2 separate regions of the Homo sapiens genome follow, and region 1 is linked to region 2. Evidence: fine-mapped expression QTL. A gene starts in region 2. The other region holds a variant in brackets. All regions are shown on one strand. Distances are from middle to middle.

Region 1 (5,379 bases), 170 kb before region 2:
TACTACATATCCAAACTGTCTCACAGAGAAAAGCAAATCACTAAGATAAAGCTTATATACATATCACCTAATTCACATAAAGGGAATGGTGCCTCAACAAGAGCATAGAGAAACTGTTATCTGTTCAATACGGACTATCAGAGGTTAAGAATGTCTAATATTGGCCGGGCGCAGTGGCTCACGTCTGTAATCCCAGCACTTTGGGAGGCCGAGGCGGGCAGATCACAAGGTCAGGAGATCGAGACCATCCTGGCTAACACGGTGAAACCCCGTCTCTACTAAAAATACAAAAACATTAGCCGGGCATGGTGGCGGGCGCCTGTAGTCCCAGCTACTTGGGGGGCTGAGGCAGGAGAATGGCGTGAACCTGGGAGGTGGAGCTTGCAGTGAGCCTAAATAGCGCCACTGCACTCCAGCCTGGGCAACACAGAGAGACTCTGTCTCAAAAAAAAAAAAAAAGTCTAATATTAAATGATAAAATACTACTGCCTTGAGTATATCGCCATAATATCATATCAACTAATATCAATATATGTTTTTATTTTCCTCAGTAGAATGCCTGCCTCCATGGACACGTTTAATAATATCCACTAATTTCTTGTCAACACCAGGGACATGAGAGTAAACAGGGCTCAACTGGGAGTTGTGTGTACACACAATTAAAGAAAGTATGAAGGTAGCATTCTAATATGCTATAAACTGAATACAATCCTCCACGGGTGTTTTAACAGAGGATACATAGGTACTCTATAGGGAGTCAAGTTCCCAGAGAGGGCAATGGTTAAAACCAGCAGCCCAGTTAGGTTAAAGTGTAAATACCCTGCAGTCACCCTGCCCAGGGAATTCTCTCCAAAACACTGCCACTGCCCAGGGCAATATTCATTATCTATCTCCAGATTGGATTACCTGAATAACTTCTTAAATGGTCTCCAGGTCTCCAACCTTAATCTCTACAATGAAGTCATGATGATCTTTTAAACACATTAATGCTATAATAATCTTTTAATAATGCAAGTCTGATTTTGCCACTTCCGGCTTATAAATGTTTTAATAGCTTCCTTTCAGCATCAAGTCCACACTCTTACATTCAAAACCCCCATTAATGCAGCCAACCTTCTCTCTGGGCCACTAGACAGTCTTAAACATACTGAACTACTTGTCTTTCCTACCCGAAGCCAAATTCTCTCAGTTTTTGCATATGTTGCTCCCTCTCCAAATCGGCCTCTTCCTAAAAATGTTCAAGGGTCGTTGACTACATGCTATTTTGTTTTAGGCACAAACATTAAAATATTGTTCCTGCATAAAATAGGACTTCACTATAAACAAATACATATTTTACCTCAAGATTGTATCCTCAGAACTTTAAGTCTTTTTCTTCCCTTTCCACTGATCCACACCTCCATGCCTCTGAACTGGGACTCATAGTTTGATTTGACTCTTCTTTGCACCTTTTTGATGATTTCTATATTATATACTGGTGTTTTGCATCCGAGCTAATTTGTCCACAATGACAAAATGGGCGATCCCACATTCCTAATATTTCCTCTGCATTCCACTGCTTGGTTCCTTATATGCAGTAAATTATCACATTTTTTTTAGATGGGGGTCTAGCTCTGTCACCCAGGTTGGAGTGCAGTGGCACAATCCTGGCTCACTGCAACCTCCGCCTCCCAGGCTCAAGAGATCTTCCCATCTCAGCCTCCCGAGCAGCTGGGACCATAGGCGTGCACCACCATGCCCAGCCAACTTCTTTTTTTTTTTTAATTTGTGGAGATGGGGGTCCCGCTATGTTGCCCAGGCTGGTCTCAAACCCCTGACCTCCAGCAATCCTCCTGCCTTAACTCCCACACTATTGGGATTACAGGTGTGAGCCACAGTGCCTAGCCCTCATACTTTTGAGAAAAAAAAATTCCTATCATGGGGCTTTACAACTGTTATTATTTTTTAATTTCCAAAAATAAATAATGTATTACTAGTTATGGTACTGCTCATGTTCACGATCTTAATTCTGAAGAGAGTTAAATGCTTCAAGAAGAGTGGAGCTCCCTTCTCCTTAGCAACATGCTTATTTTCTAATAGCAGCCTTTGGCAGACAGTGCTCCCACCTTTTCAATGACTGTTGTGGGAATTTCAAGTTTGGCAGGAGGACAGAACAATATCCTGGCAGATGAATTCTGCATCCTTCAGATCGTATGATGTCCTAAATAAGACAACTGACTTCTCTACCCACTCACTTTCTCGGGGACATTTACTGAGGGCCTATAAACTGTGCCAGGCATTGTTTAGATGCTGTAAAACAGATCAGTATGACTTGGTCCCTGTCCTCAAAGGAATCTAAAAACAGTCG[T/C]AAAAGACACCTATGTAAACAATTAAAATGAACAGGATGAATGCTATAACAAAGACATTATTGAAATTTTGTAGGAGTATTGAAAAAGAACAGGTAACAAGAGGGCTCAAGAAAGCTTCACAAAGGGGGAACAAGCTGGTCTTAAAAGGTAAAGAGAAGTTTGTCAGGAGTAGAAGGGATGGAAAAGCATTTCAAATAAAAGGAGCAGCTTGTACAAAGCAGAAAAGTGTGTGCCAAGGAATGATATGAACTCATGAACTTCAGTGTGAGTGGACTATAGGGAACAGTGTTATAAAATGAAGCTGGAGAAGAAGGTTGGCCTGAGATTGCAAGGGGACCAAAAATTCTGTTAAGAAGCTAAGCATTTTGACCAGCAGCAGACAGCCCCAAACATTTTCAAGCAGGGACATCACATGAGAACCAGTTTTTGGACAGTAACAATGTAAGTTATTAATGCCATCAAGAAAAGGAATAAAGGCATAGAAAGTTAACCTCTGAGTATCCTCTAAGTATCTGCAGCCTAGTTATATCATTTGATTTCACAAGAATGCTATAGGAGAAGCTTTTAAGGTCTTTATTTTAATAGTTAAAGAAATGGAGGCCGGGCGTGGTGGCTTATGCCTGTAATCCCAGCACTTTGGGAGGCCGGGGTGGGTGGGTCACGAGGTCAGGAGATTGAGACCATCCTGGCCAACATGGTGAAACCCCGTCTCTATTAAAAATACAAAAATTAGCTGGGTGTGGTGGCAGGCACCTGTAGTCCCAGCTACTCAGGAGGCTAAGGCAGGAGAATCACTTGAACCTGGGAGGTGGAGGTTGCAGTGAGCCGAGATTGTGCCACTGTACTCCAGCCTGGGCGACAGAGTGAGGGAGGAAGGGAAGGAAGGAGGGAAAGGTGAGAAGGAGGGAGGGAGGGAGAGAGGGAGGGAAGGAGGGAGGGAGAGAGGGAAAAGGCTCACAAAAATGCTAACCTTCTGAAATTCATACCTGCAAAGGGCAGGCATTTCTATTTTGGGGGGCCACCACCAGTCAGAAAACTGGCTCAATGAACAACGGGTCCAGATCTATCAAAGCATTGCTTATATTCTAATGAATTATTCATTCTCATTTTGTATATGATTAAACTAAAATTAGAAAACTGATGTGTTCCAACACAGAAAGGCTCTTCATGACTTTATGACTGAATTTGTGAAAAACATTTCATTACATTTGTAAGATAGTAATATTTTATACATACATTTGTATCTAATGAACTAAATTTACCTAAGCTGCTATCCATAATTTAAACAGGAACGCATAAACACATGATGAATCCGCTATCACCTTCTAAATCAAAAGACTTTTTCATTTGCATCAGGAAGCTTTTGAAACTATTTATCTAAGACTAAGAGTACATTCTGAGATGATTTTGTTGTTGTTATTGTCTTTAAACTATGGTATACCATTGTGTAGGGCAGAAGAATTTGAGTGGCTGGGAATTTTGTTTTTATTTTTAAATTTTCCAAAATAGTACAAAATAAGTTAACTTTGCCACAACGTAATAACTGAATAAATGCCTGTTTATAGCACCTGGAGCAAGATAAATAAGAACTCAGTAAATATTTTCAAAATTGAGCTAAGAATTATGATGTAATTCAACTGTGACTTCACAACAGGAAAACATTCTTTTTATAATTTTGTTTTATAATGTTATATAATGTATAATGTTTTATATTGTAGTTTTGCTCATATAAAATTCATTTATATTTTCTAGAAAAAGCATAATGTTTTAAACACTAACCATGTGACTCATTATTATAATTGCTAATATTGGCCTACTTTGATTATTCTCACAAATTTCATTAGACTTGGAGAAAGCACTCCATCGCCCTCTTGTGGTAATTTTGCTGTACTATATTCGCCAAGAGTTCAAAAAAATGAACTTTTTCTTTCCACTTAAAAGGCAGAGCAGTACTTTAACCATAAACTTCTGAACTTCCAAAGGCCGTATATAAACTTTCTGTCCTCCACTGTCCATATACTTTGTGCCTTCTCTTCGGTTTCTACCTCAGAAATTTAGTCTTTTCGTTGCTTTTTACAAAACATTCTCCTGTTAGCTTCCAATTACCATACCAATAGCATTTTTCTGAAAATTACTTTCTGTATTCAAATGCACAAAGTAATTACAGAAAATCTTCATCATCATACATAGGCTTTAAATAAATAGAAATAACTCAAAAATGTATGGGGCTGAGCTTAGCATTTTTTCCCCAAAAGAATAGATCATGGTAAGTCAGTTAATAGTCCAGAAATTTCAGAGACTAATAATATTAGACTAAGTGTTTTTTAGTAGTCCAGAAATTTCAGAGACTAATAACATTAGACTAAATGTTTTAAGTTTTTAGAAGTAATGAAAGTCTTTCCTCTAAAATAGTCTAACTCATATGCCATGGCCTGTCCTCTTTCCAACACAATAGAAATACTTCTAGCTTTTTTTTTTTTTTTTTTTTTTTTTTTTGAGACAGAGTCTCACTCTGCCACCCAGGCTGGAGTGTAGTGGCACCATCTTGGCTCACTGCAACCTTCGCCTCCTGGGTTCAAGTGATTCTCCTGCCTCAGCCTCCTGAGTAGCTAGGACTATAGGTGCCCACCACCACGCCTGGCTAACTTTTCTTTTATTTTTAGTAGAGACAGGGTTTTACCCATCAGGTGATCTTGATCTCCAGGATGGTCTCGATCTCCTGACCTCGTGATCCGCCCGCCTCAGCCTCCCAAAGTGCTGGGATTATAGGCGTGAGTCACTGTGCCCAGCCACTTCTAGCTTCTTAGCAAAATTAGTGACATGTTAACACATGCCACTATAAAATAGACTGTATAAATAACGTTTTCTAAAAATAATTTATAAATAATTTATTTAGTATCTAATATATTTAAACACTGTGAAAAATACAAAAACAAAGATGGATTCCTACTTAATTAACTAAAAAATTCACTCTTACAAATCTCAAAAATATTCTTAAAAGAATAATGAGTGACCATTTTTTTTTTGGAGA
Region 2 (5,379 bases):
CCTTCTTCTCATAAAGGGAAAATGGGGCAAAACATTCAAATAAGCCTGGTTTTTAAAGAAAAATTATATCAGGGAAAATAAAAATTACAGAAAATTGTATCAGAAACCGAAACAGCTTTTCTACTGGCGTGGTAGTATACTGAACTACAAGGCAATAACACATTACTTCAGTAATGAAGTAATAGGCACAGAGCACTAAAAAAGATCCAAAGGCCAAGCCGGAAGTCAAACTGTATATATAGGTGAAAAACTACTAGTGGGAAGCTAATAACGAGCCACACATAATTCAATTGCTTTCCCGCTATAAAAGGAGGAGATTTTCAGAAAACTAATAGAAGGACTGTCCTGATATTGACACGATACAAATCAGAATCGTGTAAAGCCAACTGATATTTCACAGGCAGCCTGCCCTCCTTTATTAATCTTTAACTTGTGTCTGGGGAATAATATGAAAGTTGGGCTCAACTTCCTCTGGCCCCATTCTTCCCTACAAGAAAATGTATTTCATTTAGATTATCAACCCATGTACTTGCAACTTCCCTTTACTTGGGGATTCCCTTCCTAACTTCTCTCATTTGTTATTAAAATTCCTAGCACTGGCAAGGTCACAGCCACACTACAAAACCAGTGTCATTTCATTTCTAGTCACTGTCCGTTCATTTCTAGATGCTTCTTCTGCTAGCTTCATTTGGAATTCATCTGCCTTAAAACAGTCTCTGCCCCAAGCAATGGCAATATTTTTATTGGCCTTTCCAAGACTCCTCCATCTGGTTATTAGTGCCCAAGCCCTTCCTCAAATACCAAGCAGGCAGGAAATAGCAGCATACTCTTTCAAACACGTCGAAAAGGTTGGAATTTCTGTAGAGTTATGGATTTTCTTTTAGGGAAAGTCTAAACAATGTCTTTGCTCTAGTACTAGGGAAGGAAGCTTGGTATTTCCCACACTTGTATCTCAGCTTCATTAGTGGGTGAGAGGGGAGAAAGGAGAACTCAAGATGAACTACACAGAGTGACAAAAAAAAAGGCCTGAAATTAAAGAGAAATATCTTGAGATTCTCTTTCCCCGCAATGGAGAGAGAATGTAGGTAGAGCTGAAGAACTAAAGCCACAGGCACAGGATGAAAGCAGCCGACAGGACAGTTTTCCAGGAGGGATTCGCGCCTAGCCTTGTTGGCCAAATAAGGCTACCGAACGGGCCGTTTCCGTGGCAGGCGGGTTCAGACGTCCTCCCCGTCAGGAAGGCGGACTTGGGATAGGATCTGGCGATCACACCCTAAATCTGCCCTGCCCAGCGCCGCCACGAATTTTCCTTCCAAGCTCTGCCCTGTCCACACGCCCTTCCTTTTTCCACTTATTGTAAAACGCACCGAAGGCACAGTCTTACAAAAGCCCCAACAAGTACTCAAGTGTTAACAAATCTCGTGTTCATGACAAATGTGTTTCTTAAACGAGCTTTATTTCTGGACGCGCAGAAGTTTTCCCCAAACAGGTTACACAAAACTGTAAATATCTGGGGGAGAAATAAATGCTTCTCAGTAGCCTGGGAGCAAAGAAAAACTAACGCGCCTTTTCCTTTGAGTCCCGCTTCCTACCCTCCAAGAGACTGGCGCAGGACTGGGCACTCAGACACCACACCACGGTGGTGCCGGGCGACGCCGGCAGCCGGGTGGGTGGGAGCGGCAGTGCCCGTCCCTGCCGGCCCTCGCCACCTCCGGGCGCCCTCCCGCGTCCCCGTCTCCGCTACGCTGGTCCCGGTCGGCCCGGGCTGCGGGGACCCCAGGGCTCGCCCTCTGGCCTCATGCGGACTCCAGCGCTGCCCTTTTCCGGGCGCTCCTTTTCCCAAGCTGCTCTCCCACCTCCGCCGCTCCGCGCCCAGAAAGCACCTGAGGAGCCATCCCTGCCCGAGGAGCGCCCCCTCCTCGTCCCCAACCGGGCTTCCCTTCTCGCGTTCGGCGCACAGCGGCCGGTTCTTTCCCTTCTCCCACCGGAGATCCGAGAGGCGCATCGCCGGCCGGCCGCCACTCACCTCGGGTCCGGCGCGGCGCGGGGCTGCCTCCGCCTCAGACAAGGGCTGACAAGTGACTCGCGGTGAGGGCGCCGTCCCCACCGCCCGCGGGAACTTCCGCCTCCTGGCTCTCCCTCGCCCCACCCCCGACCCAGGACACGCCCCTCCGCTCCCGGCCACGCCTCTGGGCCAGTCCCAGCCGCGCCGCGCAGGGGCGGGGAAGGTGGCGGCGGCGCCGGGCGCTCGGGCTTGCTGGGGCTGGCTGAAGCAGCTGCGGAAAGACAACTGCGCTACCGAGTTTCGGTGGGAGTAGTCTTAGCGGATTTTGAGCGCTACCTGGCAAAGGTCTAACCCTCCGCTCGTCCGTTTTGTAGTGGGTGCATTTTTCTCTCCAGAAATTTAAATTGGCAAGCAGTTGCTCTGCCTAAAAATAGAAGGGTACTTTGGATAAATCTCTATCTATGCAAGTTCAGCGGTTACTGCCTGCGTTTTTTTTTTTGAAAGAGCTTTACATGCTCTGAAAAGTGCAGACCCAGAAGTTTACCTGTCAGGAAGGTGAAAACCAGTAACCCTAACAGAAGTTAACCCTGTCCATCACACCAGAAGACAGTGATACATAAAAGCGGCCAAAAGTGATTCAACCACTGTATCTTCAGTTTATTTTTCTAAATCCAAATCAATAGTCCACTTTCCAGCCTTCTATAGGGTTGCTTGATACGCCCGAGGAATTTATTCATAAGAAAACGTGAATAATGTTCACTGAACATACGGAAAGTAACTAGACTGTTACACTGTGAATTGGCTTATAAAACGTGAAAAGGACAATTCTTAACCAAGGAGCATATAAAGCAAGGATGAACTTCATGAGGTCCGTGAGCTCCCCGGCCCCCAGAAGTGCAAGCAAAATTCCAAAGGCGAAGATCCAAAGCTGCTCTTTCCCTAACGGTAGCCACTGGCCACATGTGGCTATCGAACAGTTGAAATGTGGCTACTGTAACTGAGACCATGAATTTTTTGTTTTACGTAATTTTAAATAATTTAACATTTAAAACTGAAGCAGGATAACATTTCTTTACTTTTTTTTTCTTTGAGACGGATTCTTGCTCTGTCTCCCAGGCTGGGATCAGTGGTGCAATCTCGGCTCACTGCAACCTCCACCTCCCGGGTTCAAGCGATTCCCCTGCCTCAGCCTCCTGAGTAGCTGGGATTACAGGCGTGCGCCACCACGCCCGGCTAATTTTTTGTATTTTTAGTAGAGATGGGGTTTCACCATGTTGGCCAGCCTGATCTCGAACTCCTGACCTCAGGTGACCAACCCGCCTCGGCCCCGCAAAGTGCTGGGATTACGGGCATGAGCCACCGCGCCAGGTCGTTAACATTTCTTTTAAGCACTACATTTAAGGACTAAAGTTGAAAATATAATGCCCAAATTGAAATGCGTTGGAAGTGTAAAATGCACACTGGATTTCGACGACTTGGTATGAAAAAATAATGTAAAATGCCTCAATAATTTTTATATTGATTATATGCTGAAATCATCATATTTTATGTTTTGTTAAATGATACATGATTATGGCCGGGCGCGACGGCTCACGCCTATAATCCCAGCACTTTGGGAGGCTGAAGCGGGTGGGTCACCTGAGGTCAGTAGTTCAAGATCAGCCTGGCCAACATGGCGAAACCCCGTCTCTACTAAAAATACAAAAATTAGCCGGGTGTGGTGGCGCATGCCTGTTATCCCAGCTACTTGGGAGGCTGAGGCAGGAGAATCACTTGAACCCGGGAGGTAGAGGTTGCAGTGAGCCGAGACCATGCCACTGCCCTCCAGCCTGGGCGACAGAGCAAGACTCCGCACCAAAAAAAAAAGAGTAATAATAATAATATTTGATTAAAATTAATTTCACTTTTTAAAAAAAATGTGGCCACTAGATAATTTAAAATTACTTACGTGAGCAGGGTGCAGTGGCTGACACCTATAATCCTAGCACTTGGGAGGCTGAGGTGAGAAGATGGCTTGAGGGCAGGAGTTTGAGGTTAACCTAGGCAACATAGCAAGACCCATCTCTAAAAAAATCCAAAAAATTAGCTGGGCGTCGTGTAGTGTGCCTGTAGTCCCAGGTCCCAGCTATTTGTATTGCTGAGCCCAGAAGTTCGAGGCTGCAGTGAACTATGATCTTGTCTTTGCACTCCAGCCTGGGTGACAAAGGAAGACCCTGTTTCTAAAAAAATAAATAAATAAAATTACATATGTGCTTCACATTATATTTTCATTGGACAGCACCAGTCCATAGCTTTCACCACATTTTTCAAAAGATGGCTTTGGGGGAAAGTGTTTCCTAGTGTGAAAGCTGGTTTAGAGAGTCTAATATATGTTATCATGTTTGACATCTCACCCAAAAATAAAAAAAAAATAACAATAGCTACCATTAGCAAATACCTACCATGTGCTATGCAGTGTGGTAGTCCTTACAAGAACTTTATAAAATGAATGTCATCCTCATTTATAGATAATAGGTCGCAAGCAATTACAGCTTCTGCCAGTTCCACAGGGCCATGGCTCGAGTTAACCTCTAGGAGTCCCAACTCTGCCCCTTCTCATCTGTTTGCTGTTGATACAGTTAAATTGATCCTGGATCAACAAAGATTAATTTAAAGACATCAACTGCAGATAGCCTATGGAGTTATCACTAGAGGATAAGCTTCTTGAGGTGATGAGGAAGAGTTGAGAATGGGCAGACTGTTGCTTACTTATGCAAATTCCACTTTACCCCATAATTGCTAGCCTGTCTCTGAACCTCCTCCTACTACTGCAGTTTAAATCCTGGGCTACAGAGTAAATTAACCAAATTAAGTTGTCTTGCATAGACTGATATTTATCCAAGTGTCCTAAAAAGGACCGATTGCATCAAAATGACACGGATAGCTTGTTAAAATTGCATTTTCCTGGATCCCCTCTGGACTCAGAATCCTTGTAGGTGAGCCCTTGGAATCTTTTTAACAAACACTCCCTCCCCACCTCCAGGTAATTATTAAACTGCAGTGCTTAAAAACTACTTCCCTAGAGATAGTGCTATGTCTCCGGTTTAATGTGCACTGTGCTCAGTTAAGAACCATGCATTCCAGATGGTAGCAACTTATCTGTTTCCTCATCTTAAAGGAAATGATCATTGTAAATAACCTTGTGAGATTATCATGAGGAATAGAGATAATATATATAAAACATTACACAGCATGCTTCGCACCAAGTAAGGATTAAATAAATGGTAGCCATATGAAAACTTTCCTAACCAATTGATTAGATTTATTTGTGTATCATAAAAAACAAGTAGAGAACTTTGACTTTCATTATCCAAGTACTATGTTCTTGGTGCCCT

What was found. PIP is the estimated chance that this variant, and not a neighbour inherited with it, causes the effect.
Region 1: its variant is fine-mapped to the expression of PDLIM5 in whole blood (INTERVAL, PIP 0.98).

What each region holds. Positions count from the first base shown.
Region 1 is chr4:94,620,536-94,625,914 of GRCh38, reverse strand. The region is part of intron 8 of PDLIM5 (PDZ and LIM domain 5); the gene reads right to left. Among named protein-coding and RNA genes, the nearest start is that of BMPR1B-DT, 130 kb to the left of the region's middle. The variant T/C (reference allele first, on the strand shown) is at 2,348.
Region 2 is chr4:94,448,643-94,454,021 of GRCh38, reverse strand. It overlaps PDLIM5 (PDZ and LIM domain 5), which reads right to left and starts at 2,080. Exons shown (of 13, transcript NM_006457.5): 1 at 2,027-2,080. RefSeq lists silencers at 1,581-1,840, 2,011-2,430.